Homo sapiens: one gene and its partners. The protein of the gene in region 3 purifies or fractionates together with the protein of the main gene of each other region. This does not show direct contact. Each region holds a gene or a part of one and is shown on either strand. Other genes may lie near its edges.

The links. The genes of interacting proteins can lie anywhere in the genome.
Region 1: the proteins of NRBF2 (region 3) and TGFBRAP1 purify together in Homo sapiens (affinity purification with mass spectrometry; 3 studies listed by BioGRID and IntAct, with this or other methods). This does not show direct contact.
Region 2: the proteins of NRBF2 (region 3) and MTCL3 purify together in Homo sapiens (affinity purification with mass spectrometry; 3 studies listed by BioGRID and IntAct, with this or other methods). This does not show direct contact.

Annotation. Positions count from the first base shown.
Region 1 is NC_000002.12:105,270,729-105,277,760, forward strand, and holds part of TGFBRAP1 (transforming growth factor-beta receptor-associated protein 1), read right to left. Parts: intron 6,944-7,032; coding exon 6,886-6,943; intron 4,976-6,885; coding exon 4,832-4,975; intron 2,963-4,831; coding exon 2,816-2,962; intron 2,287-2,815; coding exon 2,127-2,286; intron 1-2,126. UniProt on the Homo sapiens protein: Plays a role in the TGF-beta/activin signaling pathway. It associates with inactive heteromeric TGF-beta and activin receptor complexes, mainly through the type II receptor, and is released upon activation of signaling.
Region 2 is NC_000006.12:127,509,329-127,516,360, forward strand, and holds part of MTCL3 (microtubule cross-linking factor 3 precursor), read right to left. Parts: coding exon 6,186-7,032; intron 5,973-6,185; exon of another isoform or gene 5,720-5,972; coding exon 5,495-5,719; exon of another isoform or gene 4,959-5,494; intron 3,722-4,958; coding exon 3,563-3,721; intron 1,913-3,562; exon of another isoform or gene 743-1,912; intron 1-742.
Region 3 is NC_000010.11:63,136,304-63,143,335, forward strand, and holds part of NRBF2 (nuclear receptor-binding factor 2), read left to right. Parts: intron 1-7,032. UniProt on the Homo sapiens protein: May modulate transcriptional activation by target nuclear receptors. Can act as transcriptional activator (in vitro). Involved in starvation-induced autophagy probably by its association with PI3K complex I (PI3KC3-C1).

The DNA.
Region 1 (7,032 bases), on a different chromosome or scaffold from region 3:
CGCAACGCCTTCATCCTCACAGTGGAAGGCCAACAAATAATTACTAAGTGGCTGCCATAGTTAAGACCCTGGGTGAGGTACAAAGACAGTTAAGAAAAGATCACTGTGGTGATTTACACTTCCACATCTATCATCTCATTTATATTTGACTCCCACAGCCACCCCGAGTGGATAGGTTGGGCTGGAATCGTTTTTACAACTTCCCTAGACTGACATTTCCCCAAGTCATCTAACTAAGAAGGGATACAAAATCAGTGTTTGGATTTCCAGTGCTCCTCCCACAGTGCTGCGGGGGATACCCCCATTGCCTGAAAGCTCCCCTGTGCTACCTGCAAGCCCAGGCTTATACCTAATGACTGCTCATATAGGGCCTCTTCCGGGAGGCTGCCTCTGACCCCTCCACCCCAAGGCACAGCTCGTGGGTTCCTCGGCCCTTCTAGAACTGTACCTGCCCTTAACTGCATTCCAATTAAACTCTGAGTCTCTGAGGACCAGGACCAAGTCTCATCCATCTTTGTATCCTCAATGCACAGTGACACACTCTACATACTCAGAAAAGCTGGCGGAATGCAAACATTGAACCACACACTTGTGGCTGGCCTGAGAGTTTTATAAGGAGATTTGTAAAGCAAAAAGAATAAGTCAGGAGTGAGTAAAAATTCAATAGCTGGGACACCCTGGCACTGATCAGTCAGGGACGGTGGCTGTGAGTGAACAGAGATTGCACAGCGGATCGCCACAGAAAGTCCTAATGTAGGTGCAGGTACAAGCCAGAACTAGTGTTTGCTGGTTTCATGAAATACCAACCCACACCTGTGTTCTGGCTCTACTGCTCGTGGGCTGTGTGACCTGTGGCAAGCGGGGTAACCTCTCTGGGCTTCAGTGCACTCTTCTGTAAAAATGGAGGAAAAACAGGCCTCACTTCACAGGGTTGTTGTGGAAACTGTGTCATAAGGCAGCCTCAGCGTTTCAACCTATGCTGGGCATATCTAGTCAATCCTCATTATTTGTGGATTCTGTATTTACAAAGTCATCTACTCGCTGAAATTTATTTGTAACCTCCCAATCAACACTCGCAGCAGCTTCAAGGTCATTTACGACAAGCACAGAGCCTGATGCAGAGCTGAGGCCAAAGAAGGAGCGCCCTCCTTCCTTGCTTCAGCTGTCGTACTAGCTACACGTTTCCTTTTCACGGGCTATTTATTGCCATGCTTTTTTGCATTTTGGTGCTTCTTGTTGGTGATTTCAGTGTAGTGCTGAAGTGCTGCCTAGCGCTCCTAAGCTCTGGAAGGTTGTGATGTGCTTTATGGAGACAACACGTGTGTTAGATATGCTTTGTTATTGGTCAAAAAATGGTATTAAAGGCCATTAAAGAAAAACACATCACTAACCCCAGTGAGTATAAATGCAGAAATTCTTAATGTGGCAAGAAACTAGTTAATTCTACCAGTTGCAAGCACCATGCTGCGCTGTGGAACTTTACACAATACAGAAACTGTGGCCTCTGTACCCCTGAGGAACAGAAACCCAAATGCCCTCCAAGACACCTGCATAACCTTCTTGCTTAGAGCTCGAGGGACCTGAGCCTTGAGCAGCTCGGGAATGGGTCGCTGGGGGCAGTGCCTACTGCAAAGCCTTGATCAGAGACTGAAGCCGTCAGAGGGAACTATGACTCAGTGCTTTGACATTGAATAAAGACACTGTGTGTCAAGAGACACACAGACGTCTAAAGTCTACCAGGGCAGCACCAACATCATCAATCAAAGGGCACCGTCCATCTAGAGGCACGGTCCATCTCTAGAGGCACGAGAAGCCTTATTTCTCCCTGCAAGGAGGCTGACTCTGTCAAAAGAGGCTCAAGGGCTGAGTGTGGTGGCTCACGCCTATAATCCCAGCACCTTAGGAGGCAGAAGCAGGAAGATCACTTGAGGCCATGAGTTTGAGACCAGCCTGGGTGACAAAGCGACACCCTGTCTTCATTTAAAAAAATCTTTTTAAAAAAAGAGGCTCAAAGAATCACCCTGTGCAATCAACCAGCAGCTGTGCCAAAGCCCTTCTCTCTGCTTCCTCCCACCCGCTTGATATGAGTTTTTTCCAAAGGGAGACAATACTGAGATCATCCTCACCGAGAAGAAAGTGGACTCGGTATAAATCAGATTTCTGGAGCAGCCGCCGCAGCTTGGCCTGCGTCTCGGTGGCCTCTGCACCCTTGCCACTGGCGGAGGCCCTCTGCAGCAGCACCTCTTCCAGGTACAGCACAGCTAAGTGGGTGTGATACTCTTCTTTCTGCAGGAAACAGGGGGAGCCAAGCAGACAGACAGTGTTTTCAAGTGGGAAAGTCAAAGCTCTCCCCTGTCAGCCAGGGCTTGGAGACCGCGGCTGCACTGACATGAGCTGGGCAGATGCTCACTTGCTGGATCGAAACCCTCTCAGAAACCATGATACTGAGATGAGTTTACCATCTATGGGGAATAGAACAAAATGTCACCTCTTATTTCAAGAAGTAAGGGCCACAGAATTTAGATAACCTACAAAAAGGTATAGCTCCCTTTATTTCCTTTAAGGATAATAACAAAGAAGGAAAAGAGAGGAAAAATAAAAGCTGAGTGGGTGTGAGACGGACGGAGAAAAAAATAAAGCTACCTATTGCTCCAGGTCTCTTTCCGCAAGCCTCAAGGCCGCCATCAGACCATCAACAAGTACGGATGGATCACCCAGGGAACAGACATTACACAGAATCACATGCCAAAAAGTGTTCTAGTTCAATTCCGTCTCTCCAGCCCACACTCTTTAGTCTAACTTCTGCAGTGCTCACCTGCAGTCTCTTGTCTATCACAAGATGTTCCAGATACTTCACAAGGGCTTTAGGGTATTTTTTAAGGCAATTGATAATGTCGTCTGGATTAAAACTGTTCTTCTGCTGTTCATCCAAAGGTCTCTTGGTGAAAACCTGAACTCCGACCTGAAAGAGGAGCGACAATACAGTGACTGTGCTTCCCAAACCCACCTTTCCTTTAACTTTATTTTGGTCATTGCACATTCAAGCTTTGGATAAAATCATCACTTAAAATATGATTAAATTATTATGTATGCACAGCTTTTTGTATGTCAATCATATCTCAATACAGTGGCTTAAAAAATATAATTATGGAGAAAAACAGCCCAGCATGAAGCACTGTCAAAGGCCAGAGGGCAAAAAATCAAGATAGAAAAGCCAGCCTATACCCTGAAGTCCTCCTCACACACCCCATGCAAATTGGAAACTGAAGAACAAAGCATTTACTGGTGACAGATTTTGACAACCTATAATAATAACATTAAGATCATCCAAGAACAGGGATAGCCAGTTGCAGAACAGTATGTGAAAAGATATCAAAAGTGCTGAAATTTCTGTACAGTAAACTCACTTCTCTGAACATGGATTATCTACTCTGGGTTATTTATGATAGATGGTTAATCTGAGATCTGAGCTTCCAGTCCCTGAGTAAGTTTCCGGGCTGCCTTCCTGTGTCCATCAAGTGGAGGCACTGGTCCAATCCTCTGGTTCAAGGAAAGGACAGTGAGGCAGGCAGGAAAGCAGCTCTCCACTGCACCTCCCCTGAGCACTTACATGTGGGAGGTTCTATCATGTGCACGCACACACGCACCTCCCCCCTCCAAGGCCAATACATTCACGTATCATGTATTATGGTATGAATTTTGGATTCTATAAGCCTGGATTTGTGTCCCAGCTCTACCAACTATAGCCTCAGTTTCCTCATCTGTAGCTAATGCCCACTGAGGGGCTGCTATGATGTTTAAGCGATGACCTTTGTCAGGGGATTGTCCACCGTGCAGTATCTGCTGTTATCATCCATAAGCATTGGGAGAAGCCTAAACCTTGCAACGGCACTGAGATCCATGTTGTAGGTGTGTGTGAGCAGGTCAGGATGTGCTCTGCAGGCGTGTGCACAGAGGCAAAGTAAAGATGGAGAAACAAGTATGCAAAGTGCAAGTGCCTGGCTCTGATTTTCCAGGGAAGCCAGCACCACGGAGGATATGAGAATATATTCCAACTCAGGTCTTAGAAAGGCAGATGCAGCACTCAGAAACTCTCCATTCAGGACCAACGTCCTGCATCAGAAAGCTCATTTTGTCTCTCCAAGGGGAGCCATGGAAGCGTATACGTTTTTCACGATGAGAACTGAAATGCTTGCTGTCTTCTTCCCAGTCACCTGTGGTCACCTGTGGGGCTTTACTAAGGATACTGTCCTGAGCCTGCTACCTTCCCTCTAGCCAACAGGTGCTTTTTCACTGCCAGCATTTCTCAGCCTCCAGGACAGGCCGAGTCTTGCTCATGGCTCCCCTCCCTCCTCCAGGCCCACAAGCTCCATGTTGGCAGTGGTGGGAGCAGGGATGAGGGCCCAGTGTGGCCCAGGTCTGGGTGCTTCCTCCTCCCAAAGATCAAGTCCTTCAGGGCAACCACCTAATCCTGCTCCAGAAAACAGCAGTGTCAGACTTCTGAGGGGTCGAGGAGCGGGGTTCACAGACACAAGTTCTTAAGAAGATGCTAAAAATGCAAGCTGGCTATGTCTTGCTTTTCTATACAAGTGACTTGCCCCAGCAAGGGGATTCTCAATGGAATGTCTCAGCAGCAAGATGCAGAACTGCCCTAGAGCTAGAATCCAGAGAGCTCAAGGGAAGGTATTAAAAGGGGAATAATAACAACAACAAAAAACAGAGGAGGAGGTTGAAATGTAGCTTTCTTTTCCCCTCCTAAAAGCAAAGCTTTTGGGGTCTGTTTTTACCACCTCCCCCAACCAAAGAGAATGCATTTTTACGAAGCACAAACCTCTTCACTTTTCTGCAGGACCCAATCAGCATAGGCCCACACTAGTTCCTCGTCTAAGCAGTAGGTAAGAAAATCCACGATGTATTCATACAGGTCTGAGCGTGTGGAGTCCTGGACATCGCCATTCACAATGTTCACCCACAACTGGAAAGGAATCAAAAAGAAAAAAAGAAAAAGAAAAGAAAAAACAATCATAAAGGCACATATCTCAGAATTAGTTGAGAAATGGCATATGTTTACTTATTTGGCTTTTTAATACCTTTTAAAGTAGTTGGAAAAACTGTAAATGCTTAAATTTTAGTTTTTTTGGAGAAATAAAGAAATGTAAAAAGACATAGTCCAAGAAATAAAAAAAAAAATTAAGCTCTAGGTTCTTTTATCTTTCTTTCTTTTTTTAACAATAACACAGTAAACAGAATATATGCAGGGAGGTGAATATATTAAAAATGTTTCTTCATGAAATAAAGAAAACGGTCACTGATAACATCTCGACACAGAGAAGATTCACCTACAACCATCAGCCAGGCTCTGTTTCCATCTTCTCCGTCACAGACATTCTTGATTTTGAAGTCCCCTTTGGACTGTGATAGGCAGATGTTGTGCTTTTACAAAAGCTTCAGTGATTCTGTCCCCTGAGTTCACACTGCCTTTTGCACAGGGGGCTCAGGATAGACTCCAGTGATAAAAGCCTTTTGCTTTTTCAGCCAGAAACTTCCCTACCATGTTAAGTGAAGCCTACTTTCAGGACCCCAGAATGAGGCAGCATCACTTGGGGGTAGAAAGGATGACGGTTGCGTGGGTTCCTTCTGCAATACCTGCATGGCGTGCCTCACCCACCCATACACAGCACCACCCCTCCAAGCCACAGCACCAGGAAGGAGCCCAGAAACAGGGGTGGCATATGAATTCTGGAATTCTGATGTCAGCATACGAACATTTTTTATGATACTAGTTTCTTCAACACAGAATTGCTGAAACCAAATAATCACACATACCTTGAAATATGCCATTTTATATAAAATTCTACCACGTATGGAGATTTATCCCATATCACTTCAAGTTTGCAAATCTATCTCTCTACAGCTCTGCTAAAGTTATTACTATACTTATATAAAGCTGTAACTGAGAACACCAGGTTTTTGAAAATGAAAATTTTATCACTGACACCCAAATCTACTCTTGGCCATTGGGTACGTGTTAATTCACCCAACTCCATTTTTTGTTGTTGTTGTTGTTCTGCTCTGCAATCAGGTTACCACAATAGTCTCACAAAGCAATCAAACACTAAATACATGTTCAGCCTTGCCAGAGTCATGAGGTTAACTTTAGCTTGGGGAACATGGCTGATGCTCTTGGCCCCTCACAAAATAAAGCAAAAAGGCACATCAGGAAACAACACGGTGCAGTACAAATGCATAACTAATAACGAAGGGGAGAAAGTCTCCCCCTGAGAGTGTGAGATGAGGCTTTTCTCAAGATCAGTAGCAAGATGTAAGATACAAAATGTGACAATGCTAATAAATCGATGCCATTTTGATTAGGGTGCAGGACCCCTGCCAGGCCAATGGAGCGCGGTTCAGATCCCAGATCTACCACGGACACATGGCCTCGGGCAAGCAACTGGCATGCATCAGCTTTGGTTTTGTCACAGGTGACACAAGGATAATAATGTACCCAGCTCATTGGCAACAGTGATCATCACTAACAGTGGAAATGGTAAATCCGACTATCATTCACTGCCTAAATTTTCTGATAAGGGTAGTGATATATTATGACTTGGAACTCTGTGAGATCATATTTTCATTTCTTAAGTTTTCAAAAACTCAGTCTTGATAATGTTCTTTAAGGAGATGGAAAGACAATGAGAAGAAAACTCTTGGCCAACATTTCTCCAGGAATTCACTTTCTAAAACAGAATCATTTTTATTCTGTATAAAAGGGTGTAGATCAGGCAAAAGTGGTCTCTATCAACTTGTGAATTTTTTTTAAGTAACACTAAGTATTACTTACATGGTGCTGATTTTTAAATCATGTGGAAACCCTTCTAGACTCACCTGAACTGCAGCAGCATCTTGGTTATTATAATGATAGAGCAGTCCAAGTGCAAAATACCTGAAACAGAACAACACGGTAAGTACAACCTCTCCCCATCAGCTCCTGGAGGCGACCTTCACACAGTGACACCCCCAGTCCAAGCTCCC
Region 2 (7,032 bases), on a different chromosome or scaffold from region 3:
AGAAGATAGACAGATAGATGTGAGGAGGTGCACAAGACCTTGTGCAGCCACCAGTCCTGAGAGCAATTGGTCAATACCCTTGAAGCTAATTAAATTTTTAGCAAACAGTTCTAAACTGTAGCAGATGGTCTATTGGTCCCAGCGGTGCTGTTCAACATCTATATGACTCCATGTAAAGATCTAAAAACTTGGAATTGGAGGATTGCTTCTCTAGAGTATATTCTATGATTTTTTGACTTTACTCTATAACTAGTGTCTTTTCTCTTAATGGAGAGCTTGGCCTGGTTCTACTTTTCTCCTTTAAAAAAATGACACGAAGGGATGACAATTCATCACTCACCAAATTAACCAAGTTGGTTAACACTCACCAAGGGCTTGAATATGTTTTCATTTTACAACCAATGAAGCAGATGGTTAACTGAAGTTGTTGCAAGTCATCCAAGGAGTAGCTTACAACCCTTATCCACAGAGTAAGCCAGTTATAATTGCAGCTCAGTTTTAATATTTACCGTTTTAGAGCATCATAAAATTACCATTGCAAAAATCTTATCTGAATGAAACATTTCTGATTTCTAAACATATTGTTAAACTACTTTTTCTATTTCTGACATTTTTCTGAACACTATGAAGGTCAACCTCAAATGGATAATTATAGAGAACTCCTACCAGAATATTATTTGGTTTTCCTTTATTATATTTAGTATCCTCCAGATGTTTATCTTCCACTCTTTCTCCCTTCCTGTTTTTTTTTATTTCTGTTCCCCACCACCTTCCATCTTCTCAAATCGTGAATGCCATTTTCCTAATAAAAGATTACTTTAAAGGCTGATGTTCTGCATATATACTCCTAAATTATTTTTACTTTTATTGTTGTATTCCCTAATCAGGCATTGACATTTGGTTTTTTGTAACTCCAAGGACAATCAAATTGCCTCTTTGGTATGAATATATATACCCACACTGCTTGGTGCTGGAACAGCATTCTCCCAACCCAGAAATAGAGCCCTGAAGGAGGAAATAGTCACAGGGAAGAGTGTGAGCAAAAGAATCAAGGAAACGCATCTTTACAATCTCCTGAGGACATTCCCAAGCTCTACCCTTTCTTCCTGGTGGCCAGATTATTTTGGCTTTTATTTTAAGATGGGAGAGGTCCCATTGTTCTGGCTAATGGATAGACAGTCTATGCATATTTTCCCCTTTAATGGAAGTAAAATGAAAATCAGAAAGCTCTTATGCCATTCTTAAGTACAATTTTTCAGGTATCCACTTAAAACATTCACATGACACCAAATTACAAGGCATTTCTTTTTTATCTCTGGTAATCAAGCGAAGTTTGTTTGTACTTGAATGTTTACAATTTAAAACACTCAAGGAATATGAGAGAGCACAAGTAACGTATGAATAGGGAATGGCGCCTATGAGACTGACAATGAACATTCTCTTTGCTTGCTCACAGGAAGCTATTAGATTGTTGCTGCTGTGGGTTGAATTCTGTTCTCTCCTTCTACCCTCCCTGTCAAATTCATATATTGAAGTCCTAACCCCCAGCTGCTCAGGATGAAATCTCATTTGGAGACAGAGGTATTTACAGAGGTAATCAAATTAAAATGAGGGGCGGGTGTGATGGCTCATGCCTGTAATCCCAGCTCTTAGGGAGGCAGAGGTGGGAGAATAGCTTGAGCCCAGGCAGGTCAAATGAGGTCCTTAGGGAAGACCCTAATCTAATATCACTGATATCCTTACAAAAAGGGGAAGTCTGGAAACAGAGAGCTACAGGGAGAATGCCATGTGACCATGAAGATGGCCATCTACAAGCCATAGAGGGAGGCCTGGAACATATCCTGCCTTCGCAGCCCTCAGAAAGAACCAGCCCTACTAACACCTTGATTCCAGACTTCTAGACTGCAGAACTGTGAGATAATACATCTTTTTGCTGTTTAAGCCACCCAGTTTTTGGTATTTTGTTACAGCTACCCTAGAGAACTAATACAGTTACCTACTTTACTTTTTTTTCTATAAATGAAAGTCAATTTTTGACATACCTTCAACTGTACATTATTGTTGAAGAAATATATACTTATAACTATATTAATTTCATATTTGATCTTTTAACTTTAGGGAAAAAATCTTTGCCATTCCTTAAATGGCAATGTTCTGAATTTCATGAGGAAAGTCTTACATACCAGAAAAAGATGTTGAGAATCATCAAAAACAATCTTTCAGTGTAGAACTGGATAAAAGTAGACAAGTACAAGTTACAGGCCTTTTAAAGTCACCCAGTTACTGGTGAAAATAGATCACACAGCTCCCAGTCTCCATATTTTTCTACTATAGCACAGAGCGACTCCTAGCTAGTAGCCAAGGATTTTATATCATTAAAATATTTTTTTACTATTTTCTTATGCTAAAAAATGTTTAAAGTCAGGATAATATAAGTAAACAGATCACAAAAAATAGTTTACTCCACTGAAACTGTATTCTTCAAAGTCCTAAGACATATTCTTAATCAGACTGTTGATAATTGCACTGTTATTTGCATTATATTTTTGTACCATTTTGAGATAAGCACAGCAATGACAGGTGGGTAAATACCTCAGTCTGTGGAAAGATTAGAATTTTCTTTAGAATTCTGCTTATCCAAGCAGAGGAAATTTTTCGGAAGACAACTTGTGCATTTGCTATTTCTCAATGGTAGTTTTCACAAGTTGCATTGTACATGTTCAGGTAGCTATCAAAGAGAAGTATAATTTAATTCTAATTAAATTGCTGTTTATCTTAAAGCTAATCATTTCTTGATAGGTGTTTCTGTCTCTTTTCTCCTCCATTTCTTTACCTTGATTCTGTTCTTTTAGAAGACTCATGGTAAACACATTTGGAATCTTCAAATAGCTGACATGAAGGAGAACTTTACTCTTCTACCCTAAAGGGTATAACTAAGATGAGCTGGCTAAAGTTGCAATTAAATATATATCATGTAAAAAAAAAAGGAAAATCTTTAAACAGAGCTATGATATGATACAATTGGCTGCTGTAAAAGATCTTCAGGGATAGTCACTGGTGATATTGCAAGCATTAGAACATTGCGGGAAGGGCTGGCTTTGCTATATATAGACTTCAAGCAATGAATGGATTAGATCAAATGGACCTTAGAGTCTTTTCCATCCTAAAAATTCATGGTTCTATGAACTCAATTGTAAGTAATCTCATGGGGCTAATTATTCCCCTCAACTATCACAAGTCTCATTCCTTCACACGCTTGACACTCTTTGCATTTAATATGCTGTGGAATTGATTTAATTAACATACATTTAGAAGACACAGAGATGAAACACAGAGATCAGTCAAAGCTCGTACATGTCGAGTTAGATACCGTGTTTAGGTCAGAATCTTTCGTTGCTACTCATTTATTAGTATGAAATCATGTATTTTTTACTATTTGGGTAAGAGTAAAAAATTGTCCTGCAATCATAAAAGAAATTTTTTAACAGTCATATTAGTCCTTGGGATTCTTTTTTAAAGGGCTAAAAATACATAGTACACCATGAAATAATCAAATACTAACCTCTTTCATTTTTTCCAGTTCATTCTGTAAAGCTTGCTTTGCAATTTCAACTTCTATGAGCTGTTGCCTCAGTTTCTCATTTTCATCTTCTGTTGTTGTTCTCTTTTCTTCCACATTTTCTAATTCATGGTGAAGTCTCACAGATACATCCTTTGCAACCTGAATTAAGGTGTTTGTAACAATAAAATATAATTAATGACAATATAATAAGGGCTAAAATTGTATTCCTATTGAAAGCATTAAAACCCAATATTTATATGGTGTTTACCATGTGCCAGGCATTATTCCACAAAGTATACATATAAGCCATTCACATATATCAATCGTTTAACCCTACAAAAATCCCATGGGATAGGTACTATTATTACTTCTATTTTGTAGATGAGGAAACTGAGTCTCAGAGAGGTCAAGGTCACACAGCTAATGAGTAGACACTGCTGGGCTAAGAGGCCTGGCAATCTGGCTCTAAATTTTGTTCCCTTAACTTCTGCACTACTCTGTGGTAAAAAATGTTCTATTGCATTTTATCACATGTAGAGAAATTTCACAAATTTCCTTTACTTCAGCAAAACTATGAGGTAGATGTTTCCATTATAATCTATGTTAAAGAATGAAAAATTGAAGTTTTTACAAGTAGTGGGTTGGGCTTGAATTTCAATCTTATAGCTTGAATTCCAGTTGCTTAATCTTAGGAAAGTTTTAGTCCTTGAGATTATTATTTTTTGAATGACTGTGCATTTTTGCCTCATATTTTGAGATTATCCTGGAAATTCTAGGGTTTGGAAGAAAAGTGGAGCAGACTGGTGTAGAGGCTTAGGACACAGGTTGTGATTTTGGACTGAGTGGAGAGTCAGCCTGGCACCTATTAGCTGTTTTCCAGGCCTGGGCACTTAACCTCTGTAAAAGGTGTAGCTTCTGCACCTATAAAATGGTGCCTTAATAATCCCTACATTGTAGGATTTTTTTTCCCTTGAGAATTAAATGAAATAATAATGTATGTAACAGTGTTTGCCACAGTGCTTAGTACATACTAAGCACTCGACAAAAGTTAAGAAAAAAAGTAATACGTCTTTCATAAAATGTTTACACATAGCTTTCTTTAAAACAAAGATTACACGTGATCTTTAAATCCCAATGAAGTTAATGCAATGAACGTATACTTATTTGGTTGTGCAAGGAGATTAAGTTAATGTCTAGTTTGCATAGTCAATGAATCTGCCTACAGTCAAACTGAACTGGAGACCACACCTGTCTAGAAAATGCACTTCAAGGTTGAGATTTTTCCACTGGAAGAAATTCTGAAGGAACAATTGCACTTTAAAAAAATGAGATTATTTCATTTACCTCACACCAAACAGGCTGCAAGTTGGTTATCTGTTTTTTTTTTCCCCCTCAGGGAGTCACCTAAGTGGCAAGTGCAGAAAGGAAGAAGTCCTGGAAGAAGGAAGTGGAGTGGACACTTGCTGAAAGAAATCTTAACTCTAGTATCTTCCCAGTGCAGTTCCTATTTTGGGTTTCAACTCCCCCAGAGGAGTCCTTTTAGTGCAGCTCCTGACTGCCCGATTCCACCGGACTTCTCTCAGTAGACAGACTGAAGGGCAGATCAAAGGCTAGAGCCTGCGCTCTGCCACGCCCTTGCTTCTGCCCAGAAGGGAGCCTTCTTCTCATCACCTCTTGAAGAGCCACCTTTGCTCCCAGGAGAGCACACTTAGCTCGTTTGCTGCCAGGCCCTCCACACACTCTGCACTCTTTAGAGCCACCTGCCAGTTCTCTCCCTTCTGAGACCCTAGTATTTTGTGGTTAGCGCTACGAAACTGTGTCCCTAAGGCTCCTTGCCAGTCGCCACTGAAGACTTCTCAGCCTAAAGAGCCCTTGGCCAAAGTCCCCACCCACCGCCCCTGCCGCGCGCCATTGAGCCCCCGCGCCGCAGACCTTGAGGTCCTGCTCCAGGCTGCGCAACAGCTCCCCGTCGATTTCCCCGGTCTGGGCGTAGCGGAGCCTTTTGCGCTCGGCTTTGCGGAGGCGGTACTGCAGGATCCGGCAGTTTTTGTTGGCTCTCTCCAACTCGTGGCGCATTTCCTGCAGTTGACAGGCATCCTCCTCGAAGAAAGTGTCCCTCATCTCGTCCATCTCGGTTCTCAGCTCATCGATCTCGTTCTGAGGCGGTGACAGGCCGCGTGTCAAAATCAAACTCGCTTCCAGCCCTTCCGACACACACCGTACACACCCCATTCCAATTCCAAATTCTCAGCTTTAATTGCCCTCTCTCTCCACGAGACAGGAGTGACAAGGAGCTGAGTACAGAAGAGGAAACTGGGGGAAAAAGGCCCACTTTAGGCCCTCTCTCGTTCTCTTACTCTACCTCTCTCCAGGAAGAAGTGTGACAAACCATTATAATTAGAGAAACGGAGGCCCAGATTTGAATTTAAATGAAAACCTCGCGTTACTGAGAGCAGATTCAAATTCCGGCAAGGCCTAGGAAACCCCCTCCCTCCTTTCTTGTTCTCCTCCCTCTTCAAGGCTCCCTAACAGGTTAGCAGCCTCTGATCCCTGCCGGTACACGCCCTAATCCTCCCAGGCCCACTCTTCCCATCCCCCAGCCGGGTCCCCCCACCCTCCTCACCTTGAGAGTCTCGTTTTCCTCTCGCAGCTTCTCCATCTCCTCTTGCATTTCTTCCTGCTCTTGGAGCTGCTGCGGGTGCGGCTGCGACGAAGGGGGCGCTGCCGCCTGCATGCCCCCGCCGCTCGCGCTGCCCTCTGCGCTCTGCTGGGGGCCCTCCGCCGCCGCCGCCATTGGGGAGGCGGAGGCGACGGCCAGGGTCTCGCAAACGGCAGGGGGGCCAGACACCGGGGAGCTGCGGCTACTGCTGCCGCCGCCGTTCTTAGCGTGCATCTGAGCCGCGGCCGCCGCCGCTGCCGCCCGCTCCTTCTTGAGATGGAACTGGATGAGCTCAGACTGCAGACATCCTTCTTTCCAGTAGCTCCCTCCACCACCGCTGCCGCCCCCCGCAACGCCGCTTCCGGAGTTTCTGCTGCCGGTTCCTGGGGTTTTGCCCGCAGAAGAGGAGGATGGAGAAGGGGAGGCCCCCTCCCCGCCGCTGCCGCCCCTCTGCTGAGCGCGTACGCCTTTCCCTCGCCAGCCCCTGGGCGGCGGCGGCTGCGGAGCGCCCCCCTCCCTTTCCCCGGAGCCGCCGCCGGCTCCTCCTCCTTCCCCGCCCCCTCCTCCCCCTTCTCCGAGCGGAGGGGGTTCCCCGAGTTTCGAGGGCACGGACTCTAGCTCCCGAGGCGGCTCCTCGGGCGGTCCGGGCCTCCTGCCGCCCAAAGCGGCCAGGGTCGCGGCGGGGGCCGCTTCAGCACCAGCCACAGGCTGGACAGCTCCCGGAGCGGCCCCTTTGGGCGCCAGGGGCGTCGCCTTCTCGGCCCCACCTCCGCCTCCTCGGATGCTGGCGGGCGGCCCCGTGCGGCTCCCG
Region 3 (7,032 bases):
TTCTGACATTCTTTTATGTCAGTGAACACCTAACTTAGTATCTAGTTGACTCAAGATGAGAGTTCTCAATGCTATAATTTGAATGTCTTTGAAAATTCCACTAGTATTATACAAGCTTTTTCTTTTTCTATACTCAGAGAGTTACTAATGCAATAAGCTTTGTCAAATGACGTCGTAGTGTAGTCCAAATTCATTGTATAAGGACTTATCACAGTACATGGATTTGTAATCATGTGTCCTCAGAGCATCCTCGGAACTTAGTAAGGTGTGTTTTCCAGTTTTACAGATAAATAAGCCTAAGCTGAGAGAATTAGGTAATTACTTAGGTCAGTAACTTAAATACATTATGAATCACGAGTTATTTTGATATCAAGACCTCTTTCTAGCAATGCTGCCATATTGTACTCATCATGTTCATTTCAGTATGGTTCTCATCTATATTGAACTGTAGATTCTGTGTTAGCATTTATTACCTCTGCTCCAGTATTGATTCTTTTATGTTAGGTTTGGCAGTAAGGGCCTTAGAAATTCCTCACAGTGAATTTTTAAGATCTGGAAGAGACTAGTTTGAAATATTCATTTTAATATGTACCACAGAGGTAATGGATTCTAATTATCTGGTTATTGAAGTTTGTCAAAAGAAAAATTGTACTTCCACTGAAGAAAAAAATAGCTAGTCTTTGCACTCTGAATAACTTTGTTTCATTAGGGTTTTTTGGTCAATTTTTCTTTAAGAGACAGGGTCTTACTCTGTTGCCCACACTCAAGGGATCCTCCTGCCTGAGCCCTCCACAATAGCTGGGACTACAGGTTTGCACCACCATGCCCAGCTAATTTTTTCAAAAACTTTTTGTGGAGATGGGGTCTTGCTGTGTTGCCCAAGCTGGTCTTGAACTCCTGGCCTCAAGCAATCTTCCTGTCTCAGCCTCCCAAAGTGTTGGGATTACAGGCATGTGCCACTGTGCCCAGCCTGTCAGTTTTAAATATGGAAAAATTATAACTTATAAAATTAGTGTATATTTAGATATTTCTTTCCGTACACATTTTGTCAGTGTGACTACTGGTAACAAATGTCAAAACTCTTGTGAGATAATTTCTAGTTCTTTGGTTTGTTTGCTGCTGATTTGGAAAGTGATGTCAGATCTTAATTTATATGTGGCTGTTGCTCATGTTTTGCTTACCTCTGCTGCAAAGGGCAGGGTCCATGTGACTGCCTGGCCACAATCGTTTTCTATGTGTTTAGCCCTTAAGAGTGCTGAGAATGTTTGTTGAGTAACAGCTTCCCTCCAGAGTGGTCAGTTCTCACATCACATGAGGTAGTTAATGAAGCCTCTTACTTTCCAGCTTCTGTAAGAAAAGTAGTCAGATATCATGGTCCAAGGAATGGCCTTATGCATACCTGGAGTCCTTATACCTATCCCATTTTAATTATATTGGCTTTAAAATCTTCAAGGTAAAAAGAGGCAATTTGAACCCCTTCTTTGTTGCCCTGAAAAATTCCAAGGAAAATTTCTTTGTCACAAGCTGAGCTAGGCATAATGAAAGCACTCTGGAAAAAGGAGGTAGAGAGTACTAAGAGATATCCAGCAATTATTGCTAAGTGGTAGGATTGGCATCGGGCACGTTATGTATATTTTTTATCTTTTCCTCTTAATAGCTAAATATGAGATATTCCCCCTATTTTAAAGATGAAGACTTTGAAATGCAGGGTAAGTGGTGATAGTAGGATATGAAGGCAAGATTGGGCTGGGCACAGTGGCTCATGCCTGTAATCCCAGCACTTTGGGAGACTGAGGTGGGTAGGTCACCGAGACCAGCCTGGCCAACAAGATGAAACCCTGTCTGTACTAAAAACAAAAATTAGCCAGGTGTGGTGGTGGGTGCCTGTAATCCCAGCTACTTGGGAGGCTGAGGCAGGAGAATCGCTTGAATCCAGGAGGTGGAGGTTGCAGTGAGCCAAGGTCACGCCCTTGCACTCCAGCCTGGGTGACAGAGTGAAACTCCGTATCAAAAAACAAAACAAAACAAAAATTAGCCAGGTGTGGTGGCACATGCCTATAATCCCAGCTACTTGGGAAGCTGAGACAGGAGAATCGCTTGAACCTGGGAGGTGAAGATAGTGGTAAGCCAAGCTCACGCCACTGCACTGCAGCCTGAGCGACTGAGCGAGACCTTGTCGCAAAAAAAAAAAAAAAAATTGGGAGGCCAAGGCGGGCAGATCACGAGGTCAGGAGATCGAGACCATTCTAGCTAACACGGTGAAACCCCGTCTCTACTAAAAATACAAAAAATTAGCCAGGTGCAGTGGCGGGCGCCTGTAGTCCCAGGTACTCGGGAGGCTGAGGCAGGAGAATGGCCTGAACCCGGGAGGCAGAGCTTGCAGTGAGCCAAGATCGCACCACTGCACTCCAGCCTGGGCGACAGAGCGAGACTCTGTCTCAAAAAAAAAAAAAAAGTCTTTCCTGGAATTCTCCAACACTTGAGCGCTTATCTTCAGTATAATTGCGTTATATTACTTAGTCAATTCAGTGCTTATTGATTTGAGATAACTGTTTGCTACTTGTTTGTAGGAGACGCACATTGATTGGGAAAGGGGGAGTGAGTGAGGTTTCTCTTTCAACTGAAGACCCTACCATAAGGTCAGGTGTATGTTAGATTTTCCTCTGCTGCCTTTTCAGTGCTGTGTTCATATGGTGTTCCTTTTCTTTTTTTCTTTTTCGTTTTGAGACAGAGTATCACTCTGTTGCCCAGGCTGGAGTGCAATGGCGTAATCTCAGCTCACCACAACCTCCGCCTCCGGGGTTCAAGCGATTCTCCTGCCTCAGCCTTCCTTGTAGCTGGGACCACAGGCGCGTGCCATCATGCCTGGCTAATTTTTGTATTTTTAGCGTAGATGGGGTTTCTCCACGTTGGTCTGGCTGGTCTCGAACTCTTGCCCTCGTGATCTGCCCACCTTGGCCTCCCAAACCAAAGTGCCTGGATTACAGGCGTGAGCCACCACGCCTGGCCTGGTGTTCCTTTTCTTTTCATCTTTACTTAACAGCTTTCCCCAAGGACACAGAAAAAAATAATAGAAAGTAATACTGTTTTCTTTTGGGAAAGAGGGTAGTATTGAACATGTATTTTTGAAGCAGTTAGCATGTGGAAGTAAAAGGTACTTGTCAGTGATGGCAGTCACTTAGTAACCTAGTTGTTGTAGTTAGGATTTTTGTTGGTTGTAGTTGATGAAAACCCACTTGAAATTAGCTTAAGCCAAAAGAGATAATTTACTGGACTCCAAAGAAAGGTGCAGGAAGGGCAGGGGTATAATGTAGCTTGGTTTATGACCGTATAGAGCCTGTCAGTCCGACTTAATCAGACTCTCCCTCTCTTTTTTTGCCTTTTCAGGCTTGTCTGCTTCACTCCTCCTTTCTGCAGACCTATATTTCCACCTGGCTAGCCTCTGAATGTCACATTAATTAGACTTTCTTCATATTGTCTGCTCCTAAGTTTGAAAATCTGGAGAAGGGATTCTTTAGGTATCCAGACGACAAGGTAATACAACAATGTGGGCCTGGTATGGTAGCTCACACCTGTAATCCTAGCACTTTGAGAGGCCGAGGCAGGTGGACTGCTTGAGCCCGGGAGTTCAAGACCAGCCTAGGCAACATAGTGAAAACCGGTCTCTACCAAAAGAAAAAAAAAAATAGCTGAGCATGGTGGCACATGTCTGTGGTTCCAGCTACTTGAGAGGCTGAGATAGGAGGATCACTTGAGCCCAGGAGGTTGTGGCTGCAGTGAGCCGTTATCATGCCACTGCATTCCAGCCTCTGGGTGACAGAATGAGACCCCATCTCAAAAAAAACAGCAAGGAAATCATAAGGAAGAGAAAATATAGTTCTATACTATAGTTATCAATACCATAAGTTTATGTCAGCTGTTTACAAAACGAATCATCTGTCAGAAATGATGGGCAACCACAGCTGTAGACCTCAATCTAACGTAACCCATCAAGCAATTAAAAAAGAATGTGGGAAGTCCCACAGAATCATATGGATTGCCTAGGAAGTACACAGAGGTGGGACTGCTTTATTGTGAATTTCTTTGAATTACCAGAGAAACATGTTTATGGACTTACTACCCTTTTCTTTTTGAGACAGTATCTTCCTCTGTCCCACAGACTAGAGTGCAGTGGCGTAATCACGGCTCACCGTAGCCTCAACCTCCTGAGCTTCTGATCCTCCTACCAGTCCCTCCTGTAGCTGGGACTACAGGTGTGCACCACTACACCCAGCTAATTTTTCTATTTTTTGTAGAGATGGGGTCTCACTATGTTGCCTATGCTGGTCTCAAGCAGCCCTCCCACCTCGGCCTCACAGAGCGCTGGGATTATAGGCATGAACCTCCGTGCCCAGCCTATTACTTTTTTTTTTTTTGAGATGGAGTCTCACTCTGTCACCCAGGCTGGAGTGCAGTGGCGCAATCTCGGCTCACCACAACCTCTGCCTCCCAGGTTCAAGCGATTCTCCTGCCTCAGCCTCCCGAGTAGCTGGGACTACAGGTGGGCGCCACCATGTCTGGCTAATTTTTGTATTTTTTGTAGACATGAAGTTTCACTATGTTGGCCAGGCTGGTCTCAAACTCCTGACCTCGTGATCTGCCTGCCTCGGCCTCCCAAAGTGCTGGGATTATAGACGTGAGCCTCCGCTCCTGGCCTCAGCCTAGTGCTTTTAATGGCTGTGATTCTACCAAGAACAGTATTTAAAGAGAGACTAGTTTTAATATGTGTAAACTGTAAAAGTTGTTTTAAAAATGAGAAGCACCACCAAGATAGGTTTTCTGTAAAATCTTCAGTTTATAAAAAATGCAATTTAGCTGGGCATGGTGGCTCATGCCTATAATTCCAGCACTTTGGGTGAGTGAGGGAGGAAGATTGCTTGAGCCCAGGAGTTTGAGACCAGCCTGGGCAAGATATCAAGACCCCACCTCTACAAAAAATAAAAGTTAGCTGGATGTGGTGCCGTGTGACTGTATTTCCAGCTACTCAGGAGGCTGAGGTGGCAGGATTGCTGGAGCCCAGGATATTGAGGCTGCAGTGAGCTATGATTGCACCACTCCACTCCAGCCTGGGCAACAGAGCAAAACCCTGTCTCAAAAGTAATTAAGATGAAAATTTTTTTAAAATGCAATTCAGTCTAGACCCAACTATATTGTCAACTTCTTGATGGCAGGTACTTCCATCACTTCTATTGTCTTTTGTAGTACTTAACGAGGGCTATATCGAGTATGTACCAGTACCAGGCACCATTCTAAGCACTGTGATGTTTCAACTAGTTTAATTTTCACAAACTCTTTTGTTTTTGGTGCCATCAAATTTACATAAGCAGACAATAACTTTCATTTTAGAGATGAGAAAACTGAGGCAGATAATTGGGAAAGCCGGGCTTATGTGTCTCATATGTGGTCAAACTGAGATTTGAACGTTGGCAGTCGAGCTCTATAACGAGTTTGCTGTGTGTCTGATAAGAACATAGTAGGAAATGTACTTAAAATACGAAATTTGATTGCTCTGGTGCCAAATAACCTAGAGGAGATGGTGTGTTTTTGTTGAGCTCAGTAATAATCTGAAACTATAATGAGATTTAACTCCTAAATTGGCAGACTGGTTAGAGATTGGACTCTACATGGGGATGTTTTAAGGGAGCTGGGAGAGCCATGAGGACCTGCTCTCACTGTTTGAGAACTTTTTATTTTTTTGGTGTTCAATTAAGAATTTATTCCGTCATCACAGAGTTTGAAGTTTAATTATGGAGCTACATAAATATCCATACTAGAAGAAAGTGATTGAAATCATCAGCGACACACACAGATAGAAAAAAGGTGTTAGAATGAAGTAACCTGAAATAGCATCTCATCCCTGCTTCTTAGAGTGTATCCATAAGCCAGCAACTTTGGCTTTACCTGGGTGGAATCTCAAGCCGTACTCCAAACCTCCTGAATCAGAACCTTTGTTTTTTTTGTTTTTTTTGTTTTTTTTTGAGATGGAGTTTCACTCTTGTTGCCCAGGCTGGAGTGCAATGGCACGATCTCAGCTCACTGCAACCTCTGCCGCCCTGGTCCAAGCAATTCTCCTGCCTCGTCTTCTCAAAGTGCTGGGCTTACAGGTGTGAGCCACCATGCCCGGCCTTTTAGAATCTGTATTTTAACCAGGTGATTTGTATTTTCATTAAAACCTAGAGCCTTATTGCTTATTGATTTAATACCACTTGCTTTAATAGTATCAAAACATGTTCATTAGAGAAATTAGGTTAATCATAACTGCTTGTGCATACTAGCTTTCTTCATCATGTACATTCTTTTCCCAAAATACCTGTATAATTTGTGGGTACTAGAAAATGCTCATGTGTTCAGAATGTATTTTTTGCTCAGTCCAAGTCTCCAGGTTAAAATTCATCCATTATTTTAAGCCCCCAGTCATTTCTTTTCTTTCTTTCTTTCTTTTTTTTTTTTTTTTTTTTGAGGCTGTCTTGCTCTCTTGCCCAGGCTAGAGTGCAGTAGCACGATCTCAGCTCACTGCAACCTCCGCCTTCCAGGTTCAAGCAATTCTTGTACCTCAGCCACCTGAGTAGCTGGGATTACAGGCATGTGCCACCATGCCTGGCTAATTTTTGTACTTTTAGTTGAGATGGTGTTTCACCATATTGGCCAGGCTGGTCTTAAACTCCTGGCCTTGAGTGATCTGCCTGCCTCAGCCTCCCAAAGTGCTGGGATTACAGGCATGAGCCACTGCGCCCAGCCTACCCAGTCATTTCTTGTGACCTATTGTTGTTCCCAGGCATATGTTAAGACTTAGAGGAAAGTTTGATTACTATTTAAAAAATAAAAAGTATCTGAAATCCTGTAATTGAAAGGCACGAATCTTGTCTTTAAGATTGTTGCTTCTTTCCTACAAAAATAGAAGTGGGGAAAAGGCAAACAGCAAGGCATTGCTGGAAGTGCTGTTTTCTACTTTTGTCTTCACCTGTGTTTTATACTGAGTATGATTTGTAAACA